Linked DNA regions of Homo sapiens. The protein of the gene in region 1 purifies or fractionates together with the protein of each later gene. This does not show direct contact. Each region holds a gene or a part of one and is shown on either strand. Other genes may lie near its edges.

Region 1 (5,739 bases):
ATATAAGTTGTTTTTGCTCATTCGTTAATGCATTCACTCCAATATTAGGCTGTAGTGTGCCCATATCTAGGGATTCATGAAATAAACATGAAATAAAATAGCATTAATCCTCAAGAATCTCAAGACTATCAAAAAGATTTTACATTTTTAAGGTTGATTCAAAACTATGTGCAGAAATTGCAGCCTTATTTGTGCTTTACACGAACTCAAAAGTTTAATACTAAAGGTACCTAGAGGAAATCCCTGCCCTTTTTGAGTATCTCTAGTAACAAGAATGGTTTTTAATTTTATCCTTTACTTAGGATGTTTACCTATTACACTTTATAATGATATTTCAAACTTCAAACTAAGAAATAAAAGGTAACCCAGTTTTCAAAACTCAAGCAGAGGTATAGGATGGATAAAGATGGACTTGTGACCTGATTGTGTACCTTTATAAAAATATGAGAGGAAATTATTTTGCACACTATTTTCTTTATACTTAATTATATTACAATAACAGTGTAACTAGCAGTTATAAAATTTTCTTTGTTCTCGTTAAATGCCTAAAACTCTAAGAGCAACACAACTATAAATTAAATCTGAACGATACACTATTCTTATAGCAGACAAAAGGGATTTCCCTCCTTTATTAAGTTCTTATTTTAGGACATACCAATTCGTATTCCTCGTAAGAGGCATAGCATTAAAAAAACAAAGATGAGTTTCCAGGCTCCCATTTCCAAAATTCTTATCAGTCTCCCTAGATGATTATAGCAAAGGAAAAAGTAACATGTACAATACGTCATCACATTTCCCAATTGAGTTCTTTTCCAAATGGTAATTTTATAAATTAAAGTAACTAAGTAAATCCATGATCAGCAAACAGTTGCTAGGTGATGAAGAATTTAAACAAAGCATGTAAATAATTTGGCAACTCAACCATGTAACTCAAACCTAGTAACAGGTAAAAAACTAAATATTCTAAGTTATAATGTGGGAGTATATGTATACTTATGTATATGTGTATACACACATTATACATGCATGGGTTGTTTTGGGGTTTTTTTTGTCATCTCTGCCAAGATCAGCCAAGAGGAAGAACGGTAATTCGTTTAAAAGTTAGGAACTGGGCATACCTTTAAAATTTCAACAGCATATTTCCTTTATATTGTATTACAGTAACTGCTCTATAAAACTGTTGTCTGAAGCCTAGGTAAGAATAAAGTCTATTTCGAGAACAGCATTTATCACTGCCCAAAAACAGTAAGGAAAATGTTGCAGATTACAAAAGATATTTAGCTTGGACTACAGCTGATAACTTTGAAAAATGTTTCTCAAATCTTTAAAGAGGTAGTAAGTTTTTCTTCAACTGTTAAATTATTGGACTTTTTTGCAAAAAGAATGTTATTTAAATTTTCTAAAATGAGAACTTTGAGTTTACGTTAAACATCTCTAAAATATTTAATAGTTTTAAAAATATACTACAGTGAGATGCATTTGTAAAATACAATTATCCAGAGTTAGACAAAAGTAAACATGAAACTTAAAGAGGGGAAGCCTGGACCATTATTAATCCTTTCCCACATGAAAAGTGCAGATATTAGCAGAATATTCACTAAGTAAAAGGAAAATATTACCTGGTTTCTAAGGCACACAGTTAGCTGTAAGATCTAAAGTGGGATTTATTTGCATTAAGCTTTCAGAATACTTGCTGCAACTCGGGTAGAAATAGGTAAGTATTCACATGATATGTAAGTCTGTAGTCCAGAAAGGTATTTCAACTAAAATATGTCAATTTTCACATCTGAAATCATTCAGACATTACTGATATAGTATTTGGAAGAGTTTCTGTATAGAAGATTTTTTTCAGGCTGACAGTACTTAGCGCTTTAGAGGGTCAGGTAAACCCAGTTCTCTTTTGTTCAGCAATGTCTCATTTCCACTACCTCAAACTTGGTCCCCAGTTCCACTATCCGAAGCCTGCTTTACATTATGTCGTACTTCATTGGTACCACATACAGTGATTACATTATAAAAGGCCTCTAGATCACTTTGTTCAAATTTAACAGATGGTTTCGGTAATGTTCCAGGAGCAAGGGAACTCTCTCCCATAATTTTCAGGTTGATAAATTTGATTTTCCAAGTATTCTCCACAAAAGGGCAGCGGATGAGTCCAAAAATTTGTTCAAAAATGCCCAAACAAGTGTTTCCTCGATGGACAGTCCCAGCAACTCCAACCATAACCAGCCCATGAGGAGAAGATGCACATTTCAGTCCATGTGAATCTAGGTTGGGGCTGAGAAAAAGAAATTCTTCTTTTACTAGTGACAGCAAACGAAGGCTCACGATTTCTGCTCCATGGTAGTCCATAACATTTTGTTCTGATGTGTTGTAATAAAACCTAAGCTTCACATCATGCCAGAAGTGCTGTGGTCCCCATTCATCTTGAGGTGGTCCTAGAAAAGGATTCTGAGAATTAAGAAGTCCAAAGAACCAATGACAGAATTCTTCTCCTAGGCGACGAAAATCAACTTTTTCAGCTTTTTTATCTTCTTTCACCTGCTGATTGAAACAAATAAAATAAATACAAAATAACACTAAGGTTTAACTTTCATATCTATTTTTCTATCTAGCCTATTAAGTTTGAATGAACCCATTACACCAGAGAGAAATGAACCATATGTGAACTTGCTGAACCCATTATGCATAGTAAAAATCTTTTTTCAAGAGGAGAAAAATCATTTTAGAAATTTCCAGCTTAAATTGCTGAAAATTCAGCTAAGAGAGTAAGGTTTAGTAAGGCCAATTTAAAAATCAGTATGAACTTGGCGGGCGTGGTGGCTCACGCCTGTAATCCCAGCACTTTGGGAGGAGGAGGCAGGCGGATGGTGAGGTCAGGAGTTTGAGACCAGCCTGGCCAATATAGTGAAACCCCGTCTCTACTAAAAATACAAAAATTAGCCGGGCATGGTGGCGTGTACCTGTATTCCCAGCTACTCAGGAGGCTGAGGCAGGAGAATCACTTGAACTTGGGAGGTGGAGGTTGCAGTGAGCCAAGATAGCATCACTGCACTCCAGCCCGCGCAACAGAGCGAGACTCCGTGTGAAAAAAAAAAAAAAATCAGTATGAACAGTCATATATAAAAATATATAAATTATATGATGATTTATGTAAGTGTTTCCTCAGATTGTGGCAGTGTTTTCACAGGTATATATGTATATCACAGGTATATATGTGAAAACCTTCAAAACGTTCACTTTAAATGGATGCATTTTGCATATAAATGACATAAAGTTAATATAAGCAAGCATTTTCATTGTCTTTAAATAGATACTCTTACGGTGATTGAAACAGGTTATTTTCTATAACTGGGATTAATTTTATTCTATTATTTCTCTTTTTTCACAGAAAATGTTACTGTAAGCTGGGCGTGGTGGTTCATGCCTGTAATCCCGGCACTTTGGGAGGCTGAGGCAGGCAGATCACTTGAGGTTAGGAGTTCAAGACCAGTCTTGACAACATGGTGAAACCCCGTCTCTACTAAAAACACAAAAATTAGCTGAGTGTAGTGGCGCATGCCTGTAATTCCAGCTACTTGGGAGGCTGAGGCAGGAGAAGTGCTTGAACCCAGAGGGTGGAGGCTGCAGTGAGCTGAGATCATGCCAACTGTACTCCAGCCTGGGTGACAGGGCAGACTTTGTCTCAAAAAAAAAAAAAAAAAGTTACTGTAAAAATCTACCTGATACACTAGATCTCATTCATCCATGTGTTCCACAACACAGTACTTTACTGAGATGTATGAGATCTTAGGTTTACTGAGCACCTGCTATTTAATACACTGGGCACTGTGCGTGGCACTGGTTATTTGCCTAATTTAACACACCTAGTATATTGCAGACCCTAATTTGAAGTCGTATTTGTATGATTTCAAAGTCAATGCTCTTATCAGTACATAAAGTAAGAAAGCTCTTAAAGATTCTTTCCTAGTGTGAAGGCAAAGCTTTCTCACTGTGAAACCTCATTAATTCAAAAAATGTGGTATGTAGTTTAAAAATCTGCAAATTACATAGAGGTTAATTCAAGCAACACTTAAATATTTGTGCAGTATCTAAAATGTACAGTGGAGATAATATAAAGAACAGAAACAGCCAATGTCCGCTGGAGAATATTTCTACAATAGGACTTTTTCTAGTTAAAAAAAAAAAAGTATAAAAAATATTTAGGTTCCAATGTGGGGGCGGGGGCATCAAGAAAAATAGCTAACGCATGCTGGGCTTCATACCTAGGTGATAGGTTGATAGGCGCAGCAAACCACCATGGCACATGTTTACCTATCTAACAAACCTGCACACGTACCCTGGAACTTAAAAGAAAATTTTTTTTAAAGTAAAATTTTAAGTTCCTTTCATGACATTTTTGCAATACCAAAAACGTCTTAAAAGTGAGAAAGAATTTGCAATAAAATTCTTCTAAAGTGAAAAAAAATTACACGGAGCTAAAGTTAAAATTAACCTTGCAGTTTACTCTCTAAAAATCCAATAGTCCTCATTTGATGATGCTGATATTGAAAAATACTTTCTCACATATCAATAGATGATTATATATGCATCACTATATGTCAGAAATATTTTTGCTCTTAGTTGCTTTACTGGTCTCTTCCTTCCTTCAGGATTGATAGGATATGAAATAAAGTTAAAATTATAAAATATAAAAAAAATAGGCTGGGCATGGTGGCTCATGCCTGTAATTCCAGCTGAGGCGGGAGGACCACTTGAGGTCAGGAGTTCAAGACCAGCCTGGGCAACATAGTTGGGACCCTATCCCTACCAAAAAATTTTAAAAATTAGCCAGGCATGGTGGTGCATGCCTGTAGCCCTAGCTACTCAGGAGACAGAGGTGGGCAGAACACTTGAGTCCAGAAGTTCAAGGCTGCAGTGAGCTATGATTACACCACTGCACTCCAGCCTGGGCAACAGAGCAAGAATCTCTTAAAAAATAAAAATAAAAAAACCCCACAAACATTATTAACCATGTTCCCCACAATCTAGGATTATCAACAAAGTTTCAGACAGAACAAAGGTTCAGAATACAACCATAAGATTTATTTTACCTGTTGAAATAGGTGGATGTCCTCTGTCTTTGTAACTGGCTCTGGCGTTTCCTTCAATTTCAGTTGTGGTTGCTTTTGCCAGTAATCTTTTGCATGCTGAATAAGATTGTGTTTTTCAGTAGCTGGAGGTATAACAATCCCCTGTGTTGCCAAGTACTTAAATATAACTTCTCGGTGGACTTTTCTACGCCTCAGAAGTTCTTCTGCACTTTGACTGTATGCTAATATTGCATGAACAGCATCTAGAAAGAAATTGCAAAGATTAATAAAAAATCATGAGGCACTTACAAATTTGTGCCAGGTGGGCAGAAACTCTATCAAATATGTTTATAAACTCTCGTCACAGCATTATTGCTGTTACATGATAGTCATCATTTTTAAAAAATAGGAAGTCCGTTGTCAGTTTTCTTTTAACATCTTTATGCCTTAAACTTCCCTTACCTAAAATCTCTTCTGTTCACTTCCCATAAGTGATAGTGAAAGTTTAGCATTTCCTCTTAAAGAATTACATTTTAAGAAAACATTTAAGTGAGAAAAAATATTTTTTCTAATAAGGCCAACAGTCCTAAATTCATGCACAACCTCTAAAAATAGGGACAATTACAACAATATTTTAGATGTCAAGGAATTTTAGTCATATCTCCTC
Region 2 (3,526 bases), on another chromosome or scaffold:
ATTGTCAATATCCTTTAAGATAAGAGAGATACTGGTATACTGGTTTTGTGTAGTTATGTAAATTTATTTACTACTAGAATAATAATTCTCTGCTTAAAAAAACTTTTTAATCCAAAGATTATTATATATCTATCTATAAATCATTTATTTTACCTGGGAGAAAATGCTTAATCAAGAAAATTGCAATAAATAATGATGGGTTTAAAACAGAAACCACTATCATTCACCACGTTGACTGATGCTTTTCAGATCTAGATCTTTAGACTTGTGAGAAAATTTCTGTAATGTTCACACTTCTGTAGGGAGTTTTAACTGTCATTCAGAGAGACAGTTATAGAGGAATCATTTATGAATTAGAGTAATAAATACGATTAGCTGAATTCTGTGGCATTTTTTTCAAGCATTTTCCATTTGCAACTCAAATATATGGTTACTCCCAGAAATTCCACTTTTAGGTATATACCCATGAGAATTGAAACACAAAAACTTGCACACAAATGTTCACAGCAGCATTATTTATAATAGCCAAAAAAGTAGAAATAAGCCAAATGCCCATAATTAATGAAAAGATAAACAAATTGTGGTATATCCATATGACGTGCCACACAAAAAATAAAGTACTGATACGTGATACAACATAGATGAACCTTGAAAACATTAAGCTAAATGAAAGAGGCCAGACCAAAAAAAAAAAAAGCCATATATTGTTTGAGTCTATTTATGTGAAATGTCCAGAACAGACAAATCCATACAGATGAAAAGTAGATGGTAGTGTTTTCAGGGGCTGGAGGAAGGGAAGAATGGGAAGTAACTGCTAATGGATTTAGGATTTCTTTTTGGGGTGATGAAAATATTCTGGAATTAGAAAGTGATGATGATTGTACCACTTTGTAAATATCACTAAAAACCACTGAATTATATATTTTAAGGGTAAACTTTATGGCATGTAAATTATATCTCAATAAAGTAATAAAGAATATGGCTATTATAACCTATTTATATTGGATTTCTAAAAGAATATTTCATATTCTACTAAAAGGCGATAGGATCCAGTATATATATATATAATCCTGAAAACTATTTTATAACCAAAAATTTTGCTTCAAAACATCATTCTCACTATAGTTATAAAACAGAAAACAAAACTAAATTTTTAAAACATAAATATATTTAAAAAATTAAAACACCTAAGAAATGCAATCTATACATGTGAAAAAGTAAAATATTTATATGCATAACAAGTAGTTGCAACATTATCCATAAGCAGCAGTTAGTGTTTATTTTCCCTATATTTTGGTTTAACACCATAGTGTAGTGGTAGTTCATTCTTTTTAGGGAAATTACATAAAGTACATATAGAATATTATTAGTAAGTTATAGAAGACTGTATAACTGGAAAATTAATTCCAAGTAACAGCATTTCCTCTAAAAACACATCTATTATTAAACGAATTACTTTAAACTAGCAGAGAACAAAATGAGCCTATAATTTATTAAGTACAAGATATATAGTCAACTTGCATAAAATTACATATGGCATTTTAAAAAGTCTATTCTAAAATATCAGTAATTCAAGCAATTGGGATTTCCACAGGAGAGAAATTGCCATTACTTTCCTTTTTATGAAGAAAGATCTGCCTTAAGAACATCACAACGATGTTATTAAGAAATGCTACAGCATACTTTAAAAATCAAAATGGTGAAACAGATGCATCAGGATATTCTTTTACAGATACCAGCCCTATAGCAGCATTTCAGAAGGTGATTTAAATCTAATAACTGACTTGGGTTTTTATTCTCTTCTAGAAATACATATTACATGTATAGTTTAGTTAAGAATTTTCATTTCCATTATAAATGGGAACTTTTCATACTGATTATCTAAAGGTATAAGAAATTAAGTAATTGGATAGTCTAGCACTTCATTAGAAATATATCCACTGACTCCACAAAAACAACTTTTACATATAAGCAAATTACTAAAAATATCTGAATCAGGAGAAATGAAATAAAATACAGTGAATGGTTTTCTCTTTTATCTCTAACTGTAAAAATCCCTTTTGCCTATTTATTTGACCCGTCTCTATTCATGCAATTTAATGAACCCTCAAAAGAATTTACACATCTTTATACAGAATTCACATCTACATCAGTAAACTACCAGTCCTTTTATATTTTCAGTGCCTTATCAAAATATGTGTAACAAAGTTCTTCATTCTATGAGGCAGGAAGATGTTTCCTAAGTACTTCTTTGGATGAAGAAGATATAGTATCTGGGAAGGACACCTCAAATTCTATTAGAAGGTCACCACGTTGGTCAGGATTTTTTGGAAATGGCAGCCCATATCCAATAATTCTTCTCCTCATTCCGGGTTTCACAATATCATTTACTGACATAGGTATGTTTCTTCCATCCAGTGTTGGTACATTAATTGAGCAGCCACACAATGCCTAAAATGGACCAAATAAAATAAAATGAAAACACTTCAAAACTCAAAAATCTAAGCACAAATTTTACCAGATGGTAAAGGATAATACCACTAAGGTAAAACTTTAACCTCCAAAAGAATAACAATAGTTATAAATTTTTTTTCCTCATTAGAAAATTCCTTCAGAGGTCAGGCACGGTGGCTCACACCTGTAATCTCAACATTTTGGGAGGCCAAGGCGGGCAGATCACCTGAGGTCAGGAGTTCAAGACCAGCCTCACCAACATGGAGAAATCTTGTCTCTACTAAAAATACAAAATTAGGCGAGCGTGGTGGCACATGCCTGTAATCCCAGCTACTCGGGAAGCTGAGGCAGGAGAATCACTTGAACTCAGCAGGCGGAGGTTGCAGTGAGCCGAGATCGTGCCATTGCACTCCAGCCTGGGCAACAAGAGCAAAACTGTCTCAAAAAAAAAAAAAAAAAAGAAGAAAGAAAGAAAGAAAAAGAAAAAGAAAAGAAAAGAAAAAAAGGAAAATTCCTTCAGGACATGCATTATTAGATATGTTACAAAAAAAAAAAAAAAAGAAGAAGAAAAGAAAAGGTAAAAGAGAAGTAAAGGATATATTCCACATTGCCCTGGAATGACATGGTTATTTTGAAGCTGCTATTAATATATTCAAGATGCAGGGATTGGAATGGGAGAAGAGGGAGAAATTCAGGACTAGAAAGAACTGGATAGGAGCAACTATTTCTCTGGAAAGTATTAGGACAAGAAATATATTTGTTTTAGATAACAAATGTTTACTGAGCATTTACTATATGCCACACATTCTGGCTAGATGGTGAGCCTTATAGGGACCATGAACACAGACCCCAGCTCAAGGAATGCACAAGGAACTCACAGAAACATAGAAGCAAACTAGCCATTATAATACTGTATAGTGTAAGAACAGAGGTAAGCATGGAGGTCTTTTGTAAGAGAAAGAGCACCCAACTTAACCCCTTAGATTCCGGGAGTAGAGGATGCTTGAACTAAGCATTGGGCAGTAGCAGGTAGGTATTAGAGCAGGGTAAGAAACAATAGTGTTCCATAGAG

The links. Proteins that work in one complex are often made in the same cells at the same time.
Region 2: the proteins of C3orf38 (region 1) and DNAJB4 purify together in Homo sapiens (affinity purification with mass spectrometry; 3 studies listed by BioGRID and IntAct, with this or other methods). This does not show direct contact.

What each region holds. Positions count from the first base shown.
Region 1 is NC_000003.12:88,152,826-88,158,564, reverse strand, and holds the end of C3orf38 (uncharacterized protein C3orf38), read right to left. Parts: intron 5,336-5,739; coding exon 5,094-5,335; intron 2,545-5,093; coding exon 1,930-2,544; 3' UTR 600-1,929; downstream 1-599.
Region 2 is NC_000001.11:78,014,939-78,018,464, reverse strand, and holds the end of DNAJB4 (dnaJ homolog subfamily B member 4), read right to left. Parts: intron 2,452-3,526; coding exon 2,218-2,451; 3' UTR 501-2,217; downstream 1-500. UniProt on the Homo sapiens protein: Probable chaperone. Stimulates ATP hydrolysis and the folding of unfolded proteins mediated by HSPA1A/B (in vitro).